Linked DNA regions of Homo sapiens: all the other regions are linked to region 2. The links come from fine-mapping of genetic effects on gene expression. A gene starts in region 2. Each other region holds a variant in brackets. All regions are shown on one strand. Distances are between the middles of the regions.

What was found. PIP is the estimated chance that this variant, and not a neighbour inherited with it, causes the effect.
Region 1: its variant is the best candidate, but not a certain one, in a credible set for the expression of SIDT1 in whole blood (TOPMed, PIP 0.58).
Region 3: its variant is the best candidate, but not a certain one, in a credible set for the expression of SIDT1 in whole blood (TOPMed, PIP 0.80).

The regions. Positions count from the first base shown.
Region 1 is chr3:113,598,952-113,604,462 of GRCh38, forward strand. It overlaps SIDT1 (SID1 transmembrane family member 1), which reads left to right. Exons shown (of 25, transcript NM_017699.3): 11 at 2,637-2,708; 12 at 4,054-4,199; 13 at 5,009-5,082. Among named protein-coding and RNA genes, the nearest start is that of MIR4446, 6.8 kb to the left of the region's middle. The variant C/T (reference allele first, on the strand shown) is at 2,999.
Region 2 is chr3:113,530,524-113,536,034 of GRCh38, forward strand. SIDT1 (SID1 transmembrane family member 1) reads left to right here and starts at 2,032. Exons shown (of 25, transcript NM_017699.3): 1 at 2,032-2,720. The coding sequence starts at 2,499. RefSeq lists enhancers at 1,424-1,643, 1,664-1,853, 1,994-2,323, 2,794-2,923 and a silencer at 2,594-2,643.
Region 3 is chr3:113,568,868-113,574,378 of GRCh38, forward strand. All of the region lies in intron 3 of SIDT1 (SID1 transmembrane family member 1), which reads left to right. Among named protein-coding and RNA genes, the nearest start is that of SIDT1-AS1, 19 kb to the right of the region's middle. The variant T/C (reference allele first, on the strand shown) is at 2,644.

The DNA.
Region 1 (5,511 bases), 68 kb after region 2:
TTCTGTCTCTACAAATAATTTTTGAAAAATTAGCCAGGTGTGGTGGCATGACCCTGTGGTCACAGCTACTCAAGAGGCTGAGGCAGGAGGATCGCCTGAACCCGGTGGTTGAGGCTACAGTGCGCCATGATTGTGCCACTGCACTCCAGTCTGGGCAACAGAGTGAGACCCAGTCTCAAGAAATAAATAAATAAAATAAAATAGGGAGCTTGAAAAGAGAAAAATGTGAAAGATACTGAGGGGAATGTAAAAGACCTACAACATCATCTAGGAATAAGAGCAACCCAGGGGTTCCATGAGACTCCCTGCAATAAACTAAACAGAAAGAAGATGCAGGATGACCCACGCCAGTGGGTAATCATTGGCAGGCAGCAGCTGCCAATCTAAAAAGCAAAAGCTGTGCTTTTTTAAAATGTGAGTTTATTACAGTGGAGATGCAAATGAGCCTCAACCTCTTTGTCTCTTTAGAAAGGTATTCTTGAGCACTATATGAAAGTAACATATTTACTACCAATTGTTCTTGTTTGAAGGAAAATTCCTGTCTTTTCAGTTAAAAAGATAAGTTTTGTCTAATACAACAGAAGGTTATTCAGCCTTTAAGCAGGATATGCTGCCATTTGCAACAATATGCCTTCCATGGATAAACATGGAGGATGTTATGCTAAGTGGAATACACCAGACACAGAAAGCAAAGTACTGCATGGTCTCTCTTATATGTGAAATCTTTTAAAAAGTAAAATACATAGAAATAAGGAGTAGAACAGTGAATATCAGGGACAGGGAGTGGGAGGAAATTAGGAGCTGTAAGTCAAAAGGTACAAATCTGCAGGCAGGTAGGATGAATAAGTCTAGTATACAGTAGGAAGAATATATATAGTTAATAATATTGCATTCTATGTTGAAAATTTGTGAAGAGAGTAGATTTTAGGTGCTCTTATAACAACAAAAAAGAGGGAACTATGGAAAGTGATGGATATGTTAATTTGCTTAGCTATAGCAATCATTTCACTATGTGCACGTAATATCAAAACATCATGTTGTACATCTTAATATATACAATTAAAAATCATTTTTTAGGCCAAGCATGGTGGCTCACGCCTGTAATCCCAGCACTTTGAGAGGCCAAGGCAAGCTGATCACTTGAGGTGGGGAGTTCAAGACCAGCCTGGCCAACATGGTGAAACCCTGTCTCTACTAAAAATACAAAAATTAGCCAGTTGTGGTGATGTGCACCTGTAGTCCCAGCTACTCAGGAGGCCGAGGCAGGAGAATCGCTTGAACCCGGGAGGTGGAGGTTGCAGTGAGCCGAGATCGTACTACTGCACTCCAGCCTGGGTGACAAAGTGAGACCCTGTCCCAAGAAATAATAATAATTTTTCATAAAAAAAAAATAAGTTCTCACCGAGACCAATACAATGAAACACTATCCATCCACTCTCAGAGTGACCAGGCAAATTACATGATCTCTCAGCATCTCCCTTTTATCATCTTTAAAATGGTGATAATAATATTATCAACCTCCTAGGGTTGTTGAAAATTTAAAAGACTAAATTCCTGGAAAGAATTTAAAAGACTGTCCTACACAGTAAGTCTGCAATAAACATCAGTCAGTAGTAATAGAGGTAGTACTGGTAGCAGCAGCAGTAGCAGCTGCAGCAGCAAAGCTCTATGCTGTAACTATGGCCAATTCTGTTCTAAGTCAAAAAGAGTCAGGCAAATTGCACACAACATCTTCACATGGCACTGTTACTGTGCTCGAAAGATTTGATCTCTCATACTTAACAGTCTGAAGGTAACCTGTTTCTTTGATTTGAAGTTGGTTGAAAAGCATAGATGGTATTGATGACATGTTACATACTTATGGGTCAGCCCAAGAAAGGCCAGGGAACACCTAATTTCCCTAAATAAGAAGAAATTTATGAGGGGATCTCCAAGCCTAGTAACAGTGCCAGGGAGCATGCATTCTGAGGGCCAAAGTCTGCATTTTGAAGGCCAAGATCTGTGTGCTAAGGGCCCTGGGAACAGCTTAGGCTGCCAAAAATGCTGCGTTAGCCAGAAGCCTTGCTGTCCAGCTGAGCCAGCTCTTGGCTAAACCACCAAAGAAGAAAAGAAATTGGATCTCCAAGGCCATTGCATTAGTCCTTATAATTAAAGTTTAAGTCCAAAACCTGGCTAAAGGTTTTGAGTTTACACTTTAATTATTTTTCTTTATGGGGGAAATTAATGGACACATAAAAAATTTAAAACATGCTAAAAACCTACAAAGCTGGCTTACAAAACTGAGTATTTTTATTGTCCACCAATGGAAATGATGGCTGTGTTTCAGTAGAACTTATACATAAATACTGAAATTTGAATTTCGTATCATTTTTACCTGTCATGAAACATTATTCTTCTTTGGATTTTTTCCCCAGTCATTTAAAGGTTTGAAAACTAATCTTAGTTGAAGAGCCATACAGAAACAGGTGGCAGGCTAGATTTGGCAGATGGGTCATAGTTTTGGTGACTCCTGTATTAGTGTAAAAAGAAAATCAAACCTAAAATAATGTGCCCTGATGATTCAAGCTACTTAGAATAGTGTTGTTTTGTTTTAGCAACTGGACATAAAGTGTTTGCCTCTTCACTTTTTTTAACAGGCTCTGGAAATATGGTGGCATCTCATCCCATTGCTGCCAGCACACCCGAAGGGAGCAATTATGGGACAATAGGTATGTCCTACCAGGTCTGTTCATGAAAGTGTTTCCTAATTCTGCAGAGAATATGATAGAAAGGCATTCCAGCCACTAATAACTGGGAATGTGGGCAAAGCAGCTATCCTATGAGATTGTCTTTTATTTGTAAGATGAGTTGCTTGGAGATTTGGAAGCTTCCTCCCAGCTCTAACTTTCTCCAGTTCTGTTGTTCTGTTTCTTGGATCTGCTAGCCCCACTTGGGCAGAATTCCTTCAATGTTTGCCATCTAATACTAAGGCCCCCTAGGGACTTTTTCATATCCAGCC[C/T]GGGTTTAGGGCATGAAAGATGTGTCCCAGGGAGCCTGACATCAATTGACCAGTTGTTTCATTCTCAGGTTTCAGTGGAGTAAGGGGCGATCAGAAGACTGAGGCAGTGCTGCAGGTGAACATGGCTGTAGCCTACCAATCCTTCATTTTGGCTGACTTCATAATTGAACCTGCTCACTGCCACCCAGTCGTTCACATGGCAAACCCCAGTGTTCCTTAAGTGGGCTGAAAAGAATGGAATCCTAGACCTGTCTTGTTAGAGTAGAAGCTCATTGAGCTGCCTGCCCTTCCATATTGCTTGTGGACCTATGAATGGTGCTCTTTAAAATGTCAGTGTAGAGGGACTGGGAATCCTGTATTCCTGCCCTATCATTCTGTAACTTTGAGAAGCATGTGGGCTCAGTGCAGACTACTTATTTTTAGTTCTGTTAGAACAGGATTTTTAAGAAACCATCTGAACAGAAGAAATAAAGCGGAAGGTAAGCTCAGCTCATGTGCCCATCAAGCTGCATAAATCTCCATCTGCTCTGGGAAACATTCATGGGAACAGAAGGATTCTTCTTCCTGAGAATGTTGTTTTCATTATATAATCATAGATACAGCATGTGGGTGATTTCTGTGTACAAATACTTTACCCATGAGAAATGTATAGCTGTTAGATATGTGTGGGCTCACACATATATGCAATAGATGCTATACATAGCGATGTGCATGTGTATTTGTATATATTTATGTTCATATTTTAACATATGAAACATGAAATAGAAGTATAATATTATTTTTGTATCCAAATAGTTAACAGAGCAGATGCCCTTAGATTCTAATATGTGTTCAGTCCTGAAGATAGCCAAGTTAAATATAAAAACAGGAGAAGAGGAAAAATAAAAGTCCATTGAGAAGGAATAGAGAGAAAGAACAGGTCTTGTGAATGAGAAGTTCATTTGGATCAACACAGCATTTCCTAGAATGAGTCTGCACTGTGCTTTTTGCAGAGACGAATGGGCTCCGTAGGCTCTCCACGGCTTTTGATGGCAGATGAGTTGTCTCTGTTTCAGATGAGTCAAGCTCCAGTCCTGGAAGGCAGATGTCCTCCTCCGATGGTGGGCCACCGGGCCAGTCAGACACAGACAGCTCCGTGGAGGAGAGCGACTTCGACACCATGCCAGACATTGAGAGTGATAAAAACATCATCCGGACCAAGGTACCCACTCTGCCTCGCCGTACTCTTTGAGAGGGCAGAAAGTTTGGCAGTAGAATAAACTTCAGCAATACCTCAGTTTCCTTTATTTTGTTTCCTTCAGGGAAACCCAAATTTCCCAGAAGACTTAAATCAAATGTACCTACAGACTAAAAGCAATACTCTGTTAATTCGCACTTTTTTTTCTCGCGGAAGAAAGTGAGCACATTAAAGAGCACAGGGCATTAAAACACTCTTAAGGTCTGAAGTGAATGACTGTAGGCAATAAAGAAGGAAGGGATCCAACCAGATTAAAGAAAAGATTCATTTGAGGGGTGTACTGGGGAAAGCTCCCCGGTTCTGTGCATATCATCTTTCAAAAGGAAAGCTAATTTGTTTCTGGCTTGTGATTATTATTTTCTGTCATATCCAGCAAAAGATATGAAGGGGAAACGTACAGTTTCAGCCCTATGTAGTTCAAGAACCACACAGTGGACAGCTCTGAAAGCTGGGAAATCAATTCTTGACATGTAAGAAGCACTCAAGACTCCCAATAAGTTGCCCACATCAGCCAATCCTTAATATTCCAAGGAAAATACTAGGGTTTTTATTAAGGTATCATGGGAAAAACAACATTAAAAGAAAAGTCTTAAATAATTTTAATCAAGTAAATTTGATTTACTTAATCAAATTTAGTAAATTTGAATAATTGTATCGCTTGAATAATTTTAACAATTTTAATTTAAATTGAGACATTTGTTATGTTTGCCTTTGTATCTCATGCATAAAGAGCTGAGTACAGTTTTGCATTCTCTTTTTATTTGGCATTCCAGATGTTCCTTTACCTGTCAGATTTGTCCAGGAAGGACCGGAGAATTGTCAGCAAAAAATATAAAATTTATTTTTGGTAAGTAGATGACCAGTAGGACCATGGTTCCCTTAAATAAACATAGTTTTCTTAGTCAGAGCCACAACCACTTAGGCACAAGGTTTTAGTGTTTAATGAGGCACAGGCATAGGGAATGATGTTACCAGCCAACTATCAGTAGACCTGCAATGGCCACACACATGGACACAGCCTCCCTCCCAGCCAAGAGGCTGAGCTGCCTTGCAAGAAATCTTCTCTCCCCTCAGAAACCCCCAAGCTGAGTATTCTACTCTTGTGACAGCTCCTCCCCTTATTTTCTCCTGGAGGATGCCCTTTTACTTGCATGCAGATCTTAGAAGGAAATAAGGGACAATGGGGCCACATGAAATTTCATAGTGGGACCATCAGTTTGGAAACCACACCCTTTCACGTGATCCGTCACTCATTACTTACACTCTGATGTTTAAT
Region 2 (5,511 bases):
TGAGAGGTTAATTACTTGAGGTCACTGAATGACTTTTGGCTAGAATAAGGATTAGATAATATTACAGAGTGACTTGTAATATATAACTCAAATTGTTAGGTATAGATAATCCATACAAATGGCTTTAAAATAAATATTTTGGGTTTCATGCTATGATGAAGGATCTGTTCCATTTGCTTCCAATTTAGTTGCGTAAAGTTGAGATAAAATCTTGAAGGAAGGGTCATAGCACCATTTAAATACCCACAGGTCTGTCATGTGGAAGAAGTATTAGGTTTATTCCTATGACTCCAGAGGGCAGAACTAGTACAAGTGAGTAGAAGACAGGCAGATTTCAACTAAGAATATGAAATGTCTTTCTAATAATGAGACACTTGCCCCCAAAAGAAGGTGTTGACTTGTGAAAGAACCAGTTCCTCATCTCTTATAGTGTTTAAAAAGAACGCCATAATAGAACTCCATAATCCTAGAGACTCCTTTAACTGGTCACACCAGCTAACCTCCAGGACCTTCGTAGATTTCAAGTTTATGAAATGTTGTTGAACTTTGAAAAGAGGCACAGATATTTTGAATACAACAGTTTAAAGTCATTCAAATTCTGGATGAAATTATTTCGTTATGCTCCTCAAAAACAGTGAGTTCTATTTGAAGTTTTACCCCCAGACTCTCCTTTGAATTAGTATTTTTGCCCATATACCCATATATTTTCAAGAAATTTCTTTCTTTCCTTCCTTCCTTCCTTCCTTCCTTTCTTCCTTCCTTCTTCCTTCCTTCCTTTCTTCCTTTTGAGATAGGGTCCTGCTCTGTCATCCAAGCTGGGGTGCAGTGGGGTGTTCACGGCTCATTGCAGCCTCGACCTCCCGGACTCAAGCAGTCCTCCCAACTCAACTCCCAAGTAGCTAGGACGACAGGCATGCACCACCACGCCCAGCTATTTTTGTATTTTTTGTAGAGATGGGGTTTCATCATGTTGCCCAGACTTGTCATGAACACATGGCCTCAAGCTAGCCCACCTCCCACTTCAGCCTCCCAAAGTGCTGGGATTACAGGCATGAGCCACTGCACCTGGCCAAGAACATTCAAAACTTTAAAACTGAAAATTGTCCTAATAAGGAGTCTACTAACTTAATCTTCCATCAGCATTGTTTTCTGATTTCACAGAAAACTTTACAACAAATGTATTGCATTCATTCTTGATGTTTTAAGAAATTAAAGGAATTAGACAAGGTAAAAACAAAAACAAATCTATCTCTTTAAAGATGGCAAGGACTAGGATTTTAATCTGTAATCTTAAATTTTTGAAAAAGATCTTTTCCTTCTTAATGACTTCTTTTTAAATGGTCCTTCAGGTTGAACACAATTACATTCTTTTATAGTATACAGTAATGAAGCTGAAATAAAACAGTGAGTTCTCTTCCACACGTAAATTGTGATTGTTCAATGTTCTGCAAGGTCTTCTGATGGCCCCATTCTCACCCTGCTCCTTACCTGCCTCTTTAACTCTTTAAATCTAATCCCCTAATTTTTATCAGAAAAGTATTTCCTTTTTACGATAGGCTGTGGTTTCTGCCTTTAAAAAAACAATCCTGGGGTTTCTCTCAGAATCTGGAAGAAGTCATTGCAATGGTAAAGTAGGTAAGAGGCTGGGGTGGAAAGAAATGCCTTCTGCATAAATCTAGTTAGTCTGAGTCGTTTTTTGACAACTTCCGGGACCAGACTTCAGGCAGTGCTGGAAATTGTTCTCTTTACCATATCTTTTTTTTTTTAACTGTACATATTTACATACATACACATATGGTGAGGGAGAGAACGTGATGACGTGAGACTCTCCATGGAGAGTAGGAGGTAATAAAGAAATAAAACAGGTGTCTGAGGAGAGGTTCTATTAGAGAGGGGAGAATAGAGAGTAATTATCGTTCAGACAGGCAAGAGTTCTCTGCAGGTAGCAGCCTGGGAAAGCGAACTCGCGCACCCTCTTGGGGGACGGGCTCTTTTGCTTTCTATTTCTTCTCCTGCAGCCAGGGTGCACACGTATTTGAAACAGACCGAATTTCCTCCTCGATGTGGCGTCAGGTTGACTTTTCGAGACTAGCGGGTATTTCTTTTTAATGACTCCAATGCCTTTTTATTATTGCTGTTATTGAGGTTGAGGGAGAAGAGATCGGTCTAAATTCTGGCTGGGTAAGTGGGGGGATTCTCGGCGATGAGAAACGGGGGACTTAGAAGCCGGAGGAAAATCAGCAGCCCCACATCTCCACTTCTCCAGTCCGCCCTACTCTCCACCCGTGACCTCCAGTGGAGACCCCAGGCGGCAGCATCAGTATTTGATCGGCCCTTCGTCAGCACGCTGCCAGCCCTGGCCGGCTGGGTTCGCCAGGCATCACCCGCTCGGCTCTGAAGCGGACGCCTGGCCCTGCACCGGGCTTTGGAAGGACCCTCTCTGCGCTCGCCCCCTCCCCAGGGTGGCTCCGCTTTCGAGCCCGGGCGCGGTGCCCACCATGCGCGGCTGCCTGCGGCTCGCGCTGCTCTGCGCGCTGCCCTGGCTCCTGCTGGCGGCGTCGCCCGGGCACCCGGCGAAATCCCCCAGGCAGCCCCCGGCACCGCGCCGCGACCCCTTCGACGCTGCCAGGGGCGCCGATTTCGATCATGTCTACAGCGGGGTGGTGAACCTCAGCACCGAGAACATCTACTCTTTCAACTACACCAGCCAGCCCGACCAGGTAAGACACTCGCTCCCCTCGCTCGACTCCTAGAACTTGCCAGATCTCAGAGCCCCGTCGCTGCTTTGGAGTCCCCTGGGAATTGACCTTGGGAGACTTCGGGGACCAGGGGACTTTCTTTCCCTTTCTCCTCCGAAGCAATCGCTGCCCTGCCCTAGCTGCCTCAACACGCCTCGGGGACAACTCTGCTTCGCCTCGCGCCTCTCCTGGCCTGGTCAAGGGCATTGCTGGGCTTTGCAGAGGCACCAGTTCCCCGCACCGTCTGCGGGTCCTGGGTCCCTGCTGGGTCTTTCTCCAGGAAAGTCCTGATTTCTAGGGTTGCGGGGTGTGGTGTGGAGTGCGAAGAAGAACCGCACCTCGGTTCCTAATCCCCTGCAGGGAAGAAACCTAATTTCAAGTGGCTGATTCAGCCAGACCCTTCTATTTCATAGCGCATGGGGAGGGAGAACTGCTCAGAATCTAAAATGGAAATTGTGTGAAAATGGACGGAAGCTGCAGAACCTCTGTGCATTCAACAGTCACTTCCTGCGTTTTTGTGCCATTGTCACACGTTGTGCTTCAGAGACGCCAGAAGACCTGGGCAAAGACGTGAGAACTGCAGCCATCAGCTGATCAATCCAGGTTTTGATTTTAAATAAGGATGGATAATTGTGTGAAAGTTCTAGACCTATTTTTGACAAAAGTTGAGGGAAGATAAGGAGGGAAAAATGTTCCAGTGACTATCCCTTTGACATATATACTCCGATTATATAACGTAAGAAGATGCATATAGTTCATTTCTTTCCTCTAGTGTGGTACCTCTGGAGCACTGGGCGGGGAGAGAGAGGGAGACAGAGAGAGAAAGAGAGAAAGAGAGACAGAGACAGAGACAGAGACTCCCCAGTGTACCAACCTCTGGATCTTCTTCCCATATAAATGTGTTTATGTATCCCTTACTATACCAGCATCCCCTACCCTCTAGGGAAATTCCAGAACTAGATGATTGGGATACCATGATATGCCTCCGTCTGATTCTCACTCCAGATCGGAACTAGAAAACCTCATCACTTCCCAAAGTGAGGGTGGTTTGTATTGAGCAGGGGGGACCAATGTGCCTAACACTGCTCCTAGACATCTTCCAGCTGTGTGTAGCCAGAAAGTGCCCTGAGTGCCCCATCTCCAGTGTGGCACCAAATCCTATGGCACTGTTACCATGGCAGCACAGCCCTCACCCTGCTCTGTCCTCCAGTAACCTTCAGGTTATATGTTCTGTAGTGAGCAGAGTGGCTGTATGCAGAGCCATTTCATGGTAGACAAGGGAGAGGCTGCAGTTTTTGTTTCCCAAACGCCATATACCCAGCCTCTTTCTATCTAGCGTGGGAGAACTCATCGACTGGTTGACATGTTGCACGTGAGGTGTGTTCCTAGTCCTGTGATTGGCTGGGAGCAGAAAAAAGTCTGAAAACTCCATGATCTCTGGAGTAAGTCTCAGCTTCCCCCTAAATCATTGGTAAGAAAACTCAAATTACATGTGCTAAGTAAATCCTGACATCAGGCTTTGGTATTTCTTGCAGTTCTGCATAGAGATAGAGCATCTACTTATGAATTGTTGCCTTTACATTTTCCCCTTGTACTGTGTGAGTTTTGCACTTGAGATCACCTGGTTGACTTCCCTAGTAAACCTTGAGATATTGAGGGCAGGGGCAAAGTCATGTTCATCTCTGCCCTCCAGTACCTAGCACAGTGAATGGCACATAAGAGGTTTATAAGCCAGGCATGATGGCTCACACCTGTAATCCCAGCACTCTGGAGGACAAAGTGGGAGGATTGCTTGAGACCAGGAGTTCAAGACCAGCCTGGAAAACATAATGAGACCCTCTCTCTACAAAAAATTAAAAAATTAGCTGGGTGTGATGGCACATGCGCCTGTAGTCCCAGCTACTTAGGAGGCGGAGGCAGGAGGATCACTTGAGCCCAGGAATTTGAGGCTGCAGTGAGCTGAGCTCTTGCCACTGTACTCCCACTGGGGACAGAGTGATACCCTGTTTTTTCAAAATGTTTTTTTTTTTAAAGAAAAGAGAGGCTTATAAAAAACATTTAGTGTTTTCCAAAAATGAACAAATAAGTGAATAAAGGGTTATTAGCTAAGGCTAAATAAAATGAAATGTATACTGTTTTCAATTCAATAGTTTGGAAAATGTGAGATCATTTCAGATAAAAACATAAAAACAAATTTCTTTCATAAAACAAATTTGGTTTTTATAAAAACACATTTTAAAAATTGTTCTATTATGCCCTATTTTGTCTGTGTGTGTTAACATGTCCTTTATTTTATGAAACAGTTTTGAAAATATTTTTGAATGACACAGTAAAAGGTTGATGACCCAAGCAGTCCCTAGAATTTTTGTTAAAATATTACTAGTCTGAGAAATACAAAGTTGGGAACCATGGGAACAGGAGATAACAAGAATTTCAATTATTTTAGTGCCAGTATTCTCAATATAAGCCAAATGTCCTCAAATCTTACAGCCTTCTGGGACCAATCTTTAATATGCAAATGCTGTAGTGGAGCCCTCAAAAGCCACTTATTGTGGGAAATTAACCTCCTGTCCTACCAGCCAGTATTCCTGTTGCTTTCTCCAGAGAAGACATTTTCTTGATCTGTCTGTCCAAACCATTACCTTCGGTTCCTACTCTCTTCTTAGTTCTTCTTATCCTGCATAAGATATCAGCAGCCCCTTCTTGCAGGTACACAAGGCTGTTGGATGTAGCAGAATTTTACTGAAGGTTTGGAATAACATAGAGGAATGAC
Region 3 (5,511 bases), 38 kb after region 2:
TCACGCCTGTGATCCCAGCACTTTGGGAGGCCACAGCAGGTGGATCACCTGAGGTCAGGAGAGCGAGACCAGCCTGACCAACATGGTGAAACCCCTCTGTGCTAGAAATACAAAAAAAAAAAATTAGCTGGGCATGGTGGCAGGCGCCTGTTGTCCCAGCTAATCCGGAGGCTGAGGCAGGAGAATGCTTGAGCCTGGGAGGTGGAGGTTGCAGTGAGCCGAGATCATGCCAATGCACTCCAGCCTGGGTGAAGGAGTGAGACTCCCTCTCAAAAAAAAAAAAAAAAAAAAAGGAAGCCAGACAAAAGAAATGTATGCTATTTTATTCCATTTATATAAAATTTAAAGGCAGGCAAAACTATTCTGTGATGCTGGAAGTCAGAATAGTGGTACCTTTGGGGAGGAGAGAAGTACATGGCTATGTTTGACGATAATTTATTCAAATATATGCTTATAACTGCACACTTTTCTATAATACATGTTTGTTATATTTCAATTAAAAAGTTAATTTTTTAAAAAATCGGAATATTTCAAAATCGTATATGTCACTGTTTTGCAGCTTATTTTTCTGATCAGAAAGTTTGGTTCTACAGTAAAGTTCTCCTTAAATTTAAGGCAGTTTATAAAAACATCTGTAGCCAGTAGAGTTGCTAATAGGACTCAAATATTTATCTTGGTCCTCTCTACCCTCCTTGACATAGTGTTATACCCATACGGAAACGTGGACAGATAAATGAATGAGTGGTCAGAAGGATGGAGAAGGAGTCACAGCATTTTTTCTCAAGTCCCTCCATTAATCCTGGTGTTGAAAAAGGTGACATGATAATTTTAAGAGCAAAGGACACTCTATCCTCCACAAGAACAAGGAGAAAAAGATTCTCTGGTGAATAAGATCCACCCAGAGCAATTAAATCAGAGGCTGTAGGGGAGAGGTTTGGGCACTGGTAAAGTGTTTAAAGTTCCCCAGGTGTTTCTAACATGCAGCCAGTGTTGCGAACCACTACCCTAAAATGATTTCTAAATATGGTGCTTCAGTTTAATTTAATATATATTTTTTGAGACCGAGTCTTGCTGTATCACCAGGCTGGAGTGCAATGGCATGATCTTGGTTCACTGCAACCTCCACCTCCTGGGTTCAAGCGATTCTTGTGCCTCAGCCTCCCAAGTAGCTGGGATTACAGGTGTGTGCCACCATGCCCGGCTAATTTTTGTATTTTTAGTAGAGACGGATTTGACCATGTTGCCCAGACTGGTCTCGAACCCCTGGGCTCAAGCGATCCACCCGCCTCGGCCTCCCAAAGTGCTGGTATTACAGGCATGAGCAACTGTGCCTGGCCTAATTTAATAATTTAAAAATCTACTTGTGATATTTATCCATATGGGAATACACATTTGATGGGAGTTACACATTTGATGGGAGTGATAACGTGTTACAGTACTTGCACAGAGTGCAGTTTGAACTGCAGAGAAGCCTTGCCTTTATCAACTGATCTCTGTCTTTAATCAATCAATCAAGTGTCACCTGGTAGCAGTGGCAGTGTCACTTGGTGGTAGCATATTTGAATTGTAGGAATGGTCTTCTGTAAGGTTATTAGAACCTTTTGAGAACTGAATTCTGTGAAAATAAAGTCATAAGGTCACAACTGTAGCGAGTGTTAATGAATTATTTGCACGCTGGTGAAACTGCAAATCTATTCCCTCATGTTGCTTTCTGTTTTTACCTCATAATATGACTTAGCCTCAGCAACCAGACTTTAAGAGCATTTCAAAATCACTATTTACACACCAGCCTTGCTGGTAACCTGGAACCAGAGGATGATGGTAATGAGGAAGAGCTGAGGATTGTGATGAGAACTGGGCTCAGGCATTGAGAGAAACACTGAAGAAGTAATTCGAAATCTCTAAGATTGAAGTTTCTATTGTATGTTTTTGAGTGGCAGCCTATAATGTATATGGAACACATTTTGGGAACTTTTTTCCCCTAGAATCATACATTTTAAGAACTGAAGGATCTTTGGGAATCTAATCCACCTGCCTCATTTTTACAGATGAGCAAACTGATGCCCAGAGAAGTTAAGTGACTTGTTCAAATTCACACAGCTAGGAAAGGGCAAAATCAAGACTAAATTGTACTTCTGACTCCCAGTTCTGCGCTCTTCTCGCCATAATGAACTATTTCTACTTTCTAGTTAAAACTGTCCTCCCAATTGTTTGTGTTTCTCTAAATATGTCTCTCAATTCCATGAAACATTTATTTAAATCCAACTTTACTAGCAGAGCACAGTGGCTCCCGCCTGTAATTCCAGCTACTCAGGAGGCTGAGGCAGGAGGATGACTTAAGGCCAGGAGTTCAAGACTGGCCTAGGCAACATAGTCTCTAAAAAAATAAAAACCAAAAAAATTAGCCAGACATGATGGTGTGTGCCTGTAGATCCAGTTACTCAGGAGGTTGAGGCAAGAGGACTGATTGAGCCCAGGAGTTTGTGCTGCTGTGAGCCATGATTGTGCCACTGCACTCTAGGCTGAGCAACAAAATGAGACCCCATCTCTGCAAAATTCCTTTAAAATTGAAACAACTCTACTTTAAAGCATTGCTTGGTGCCATCTACCTATCCTCTGCACACACACACACACACACACACA[T/C]AAACTGTGCCACTACTCTTTTTCTACACTCCAGTGCCCAGGTGTTTAGTATTGCTAGAGTGTGAAATTGCAGGCAGGCAACAGCAGATGGCTACAGAAACAGGCAAGCCTGTGATCATGGCATAGGAGGATCTTAAGAAGGGGCATTAGGAAATTTAAACGTCTGTAATCCCAGCACTTTGGGAGACCAAGGCGGGCAGATCACCTGAGGTCAGGAGTTCAAGACAAACCTGGCCAATATGGTGAAACTCCGTCTCTACTAAAAAATTCAAAAACTAGCTGGGCATGGTGGTGCACACCTGTAATCCCAGCTACCTGGGGGGCTGAGGCAGGAGAATCACTTGAACCCAGGAGGCAGAGGTTTCAGTGAGCTGAGATTGCACCACTGTACTCCAGCCTGGGCCATAGAGCAAGACTCCGTCTCACACACACACAAAAAAAATTAAACAGTTGTCTATATTGTGATAGTTGTGTGGAGAATGGATTTGAAGAGGACAAAACAGGATGCAGAGAAGTTAGAAGGCTGATGCAGTAGTCAAGATAAATAATGAGGAGGTGAATTGAAATATTAGGAGAGGTGAAATTGCTGAAATTTTATTAGATATGAGGGGAAAAAGAAAAGAGAGAGTCAATAATGCCAGTGTAGCTTGTAGATGGTGGGGCCACTAAGAGAAAATGAGAATTTTGATAAGAAAAAGAACAGATGATAACTTCACTTTGGGACAGGTTGGGTTTGAAATACAGATATCTGGCAAAGTGATGGATGTATACTAACATGACACTTAGGGGAGAGCTCTGAGTTACAGTTAGGCAGACTAGTGCAGTCTTCAGGAACACATCAAGAAGCCTGGTCCACATGATGCCTGGGCAAGACAGGGTTACAGGAGATAGGGCTGGAGAAACAGGCAGTGCCCAACTTTGATCTTTAAGATGTTGGATGCTAGACTATGGAGTAGAACTTCGTCTTTCAGATTATGGGAGCCATTAAAGGATTGTGAGCAACAGGATAGCATTCAGAGATCTGATTTCTAGAGATGACATGAGTGGCAGTGTGGAAGAGGAATTACAGAGATGAAAGATGAGGGACAAACAGGCAAATGAAAAGTTATCTGAATGGAGAAGAAAGAAAAATGATTAGAACTTGAATGTGTATGGCAGCAACAAGGTTGTAAGGGAGAAAACGAGTCAAATAGTACACATGGAGATAATTCATAATTCAGCAAATATATGTGGCAGAATAAAATTTATAGTCCTCCATGAATACTTGCAGCCTTCAGCCCTCCTCTAGCCTTCTAAGTAGGGATCTTGAGTCTGTTTTAAGAGGAGAGAGTGTGTGAGTGAGATAGCTCAGCTACTATGCTGTGAAAAGTAATAGATTTTTTGAAGAAATGGGTGGATAAGAGAATTTTAGACCATTTTGCTATGTGTCATACTATATAATTACCTTTGGTATTTTGGAGGAGACTACAATAAAGATTTACATTCCTTTTTTTTTTTTTCTCTCTTAATGATGCTGTACTGAGCAAACATGGTGCTCCAGGTGGTGGCAGGTTACTTTTACACTAATAGAATGAGTAGGACCTGGTGATTAATCAAATGTGGAAAGCGATAGAAAGGGGGTAGTCCAACATGACTCCTACAGTGATGTCAGAAGTCTGGTGAGGTTTACTGACAAAGGGACATAGTAGGTCAGGATCAGGGAAGTGACAGCACATTCCCTTTTATCATGTGGAGTTTGAGGTGTTCAAGGGATGGTCAAGTGCAGAAGCCCAGCAGGGGATCACTATTCTGTGACTGGGGCTCAGGAGATGGCCCTGGGCTGGACACAGGGACTTGAGATTCACTGGCATTATTGTGGTATTTACAGCAGCTGGATACACATTGTAAAACGAGTTGATCAAGAACAAGGCTGTGGGTAACATTCTCATTTAAGGGATGATCTGAGAAACTGAAGCTATCATAAGGGGCTGAGTAGACACAGCCAGAGGTGTGGGAGAAATCCCTGGGGGTTAAGTCACTGGATTTAGCGATTAGATAGTGCTATGGTCTCAATGTTTACTTTCCCCAAAATTCATATTGAAATCTCCACAGTGATGGTACTTGGAGGTGGGGCCTTTGGGAGATGATTAGGTCGTGAGAGTGGAGCCCTTGTGAATGGGATTAATACCTTTATGAAAGAGTCCCCAGAAAGGCCCTCTGTCCTTTACACCACATGAGGATGCAGTGAGAAGGCACCATCTATGAGGAAGCAGGCTCTCATCAGACACCTTGATCTTGAACCTGCTAGCCTGTAAAACTGTAAGAAATAATAGATTTCCATTCTTTATAAGTCACCGAGTTGACAGTATTTTTGTTATAGCTGCCTGAATAGGCTAAGACAGGAGGTGACTCTTACCCTTAGCAAAGGAAATTTCAAGGGCGTGGTGGAGAAAGAATCCTGATAGCAGTGGGTGGAGGAAAGAATGAAAGAGAGATAAACATGGAATACTCCTAGAAGCAGCTGGTTTGTGAAGAGAGGAAGGACATAGGATGACATTAAAGGATGGCGATCCAGGGAAAAGGGAGGCATTTGGGTGGGGTGTTTGTTATTTGTTTTGAAAATGGTTGAGACTAGAATATATTTATAAACAAAGAGGTAGAAAGGCAGATTAAATTCATAGGAGAGTTGGATATTTGTAGATGCAAAGTGCCAGAGAATGATAGAAAGAATGAGAATTAAGTACATGAGTGCGGAGTTTATACTTAGACCAGAGGAATGAAGGGCAGACAGTTCCCAATGACAAGAAGGTCGGTGGGAAAGCTACAGTCCTGAAGGGAGTTCATAGCAGATGGCAGAAGGAGATAACAGGGAATGATATTCTGAAGTTC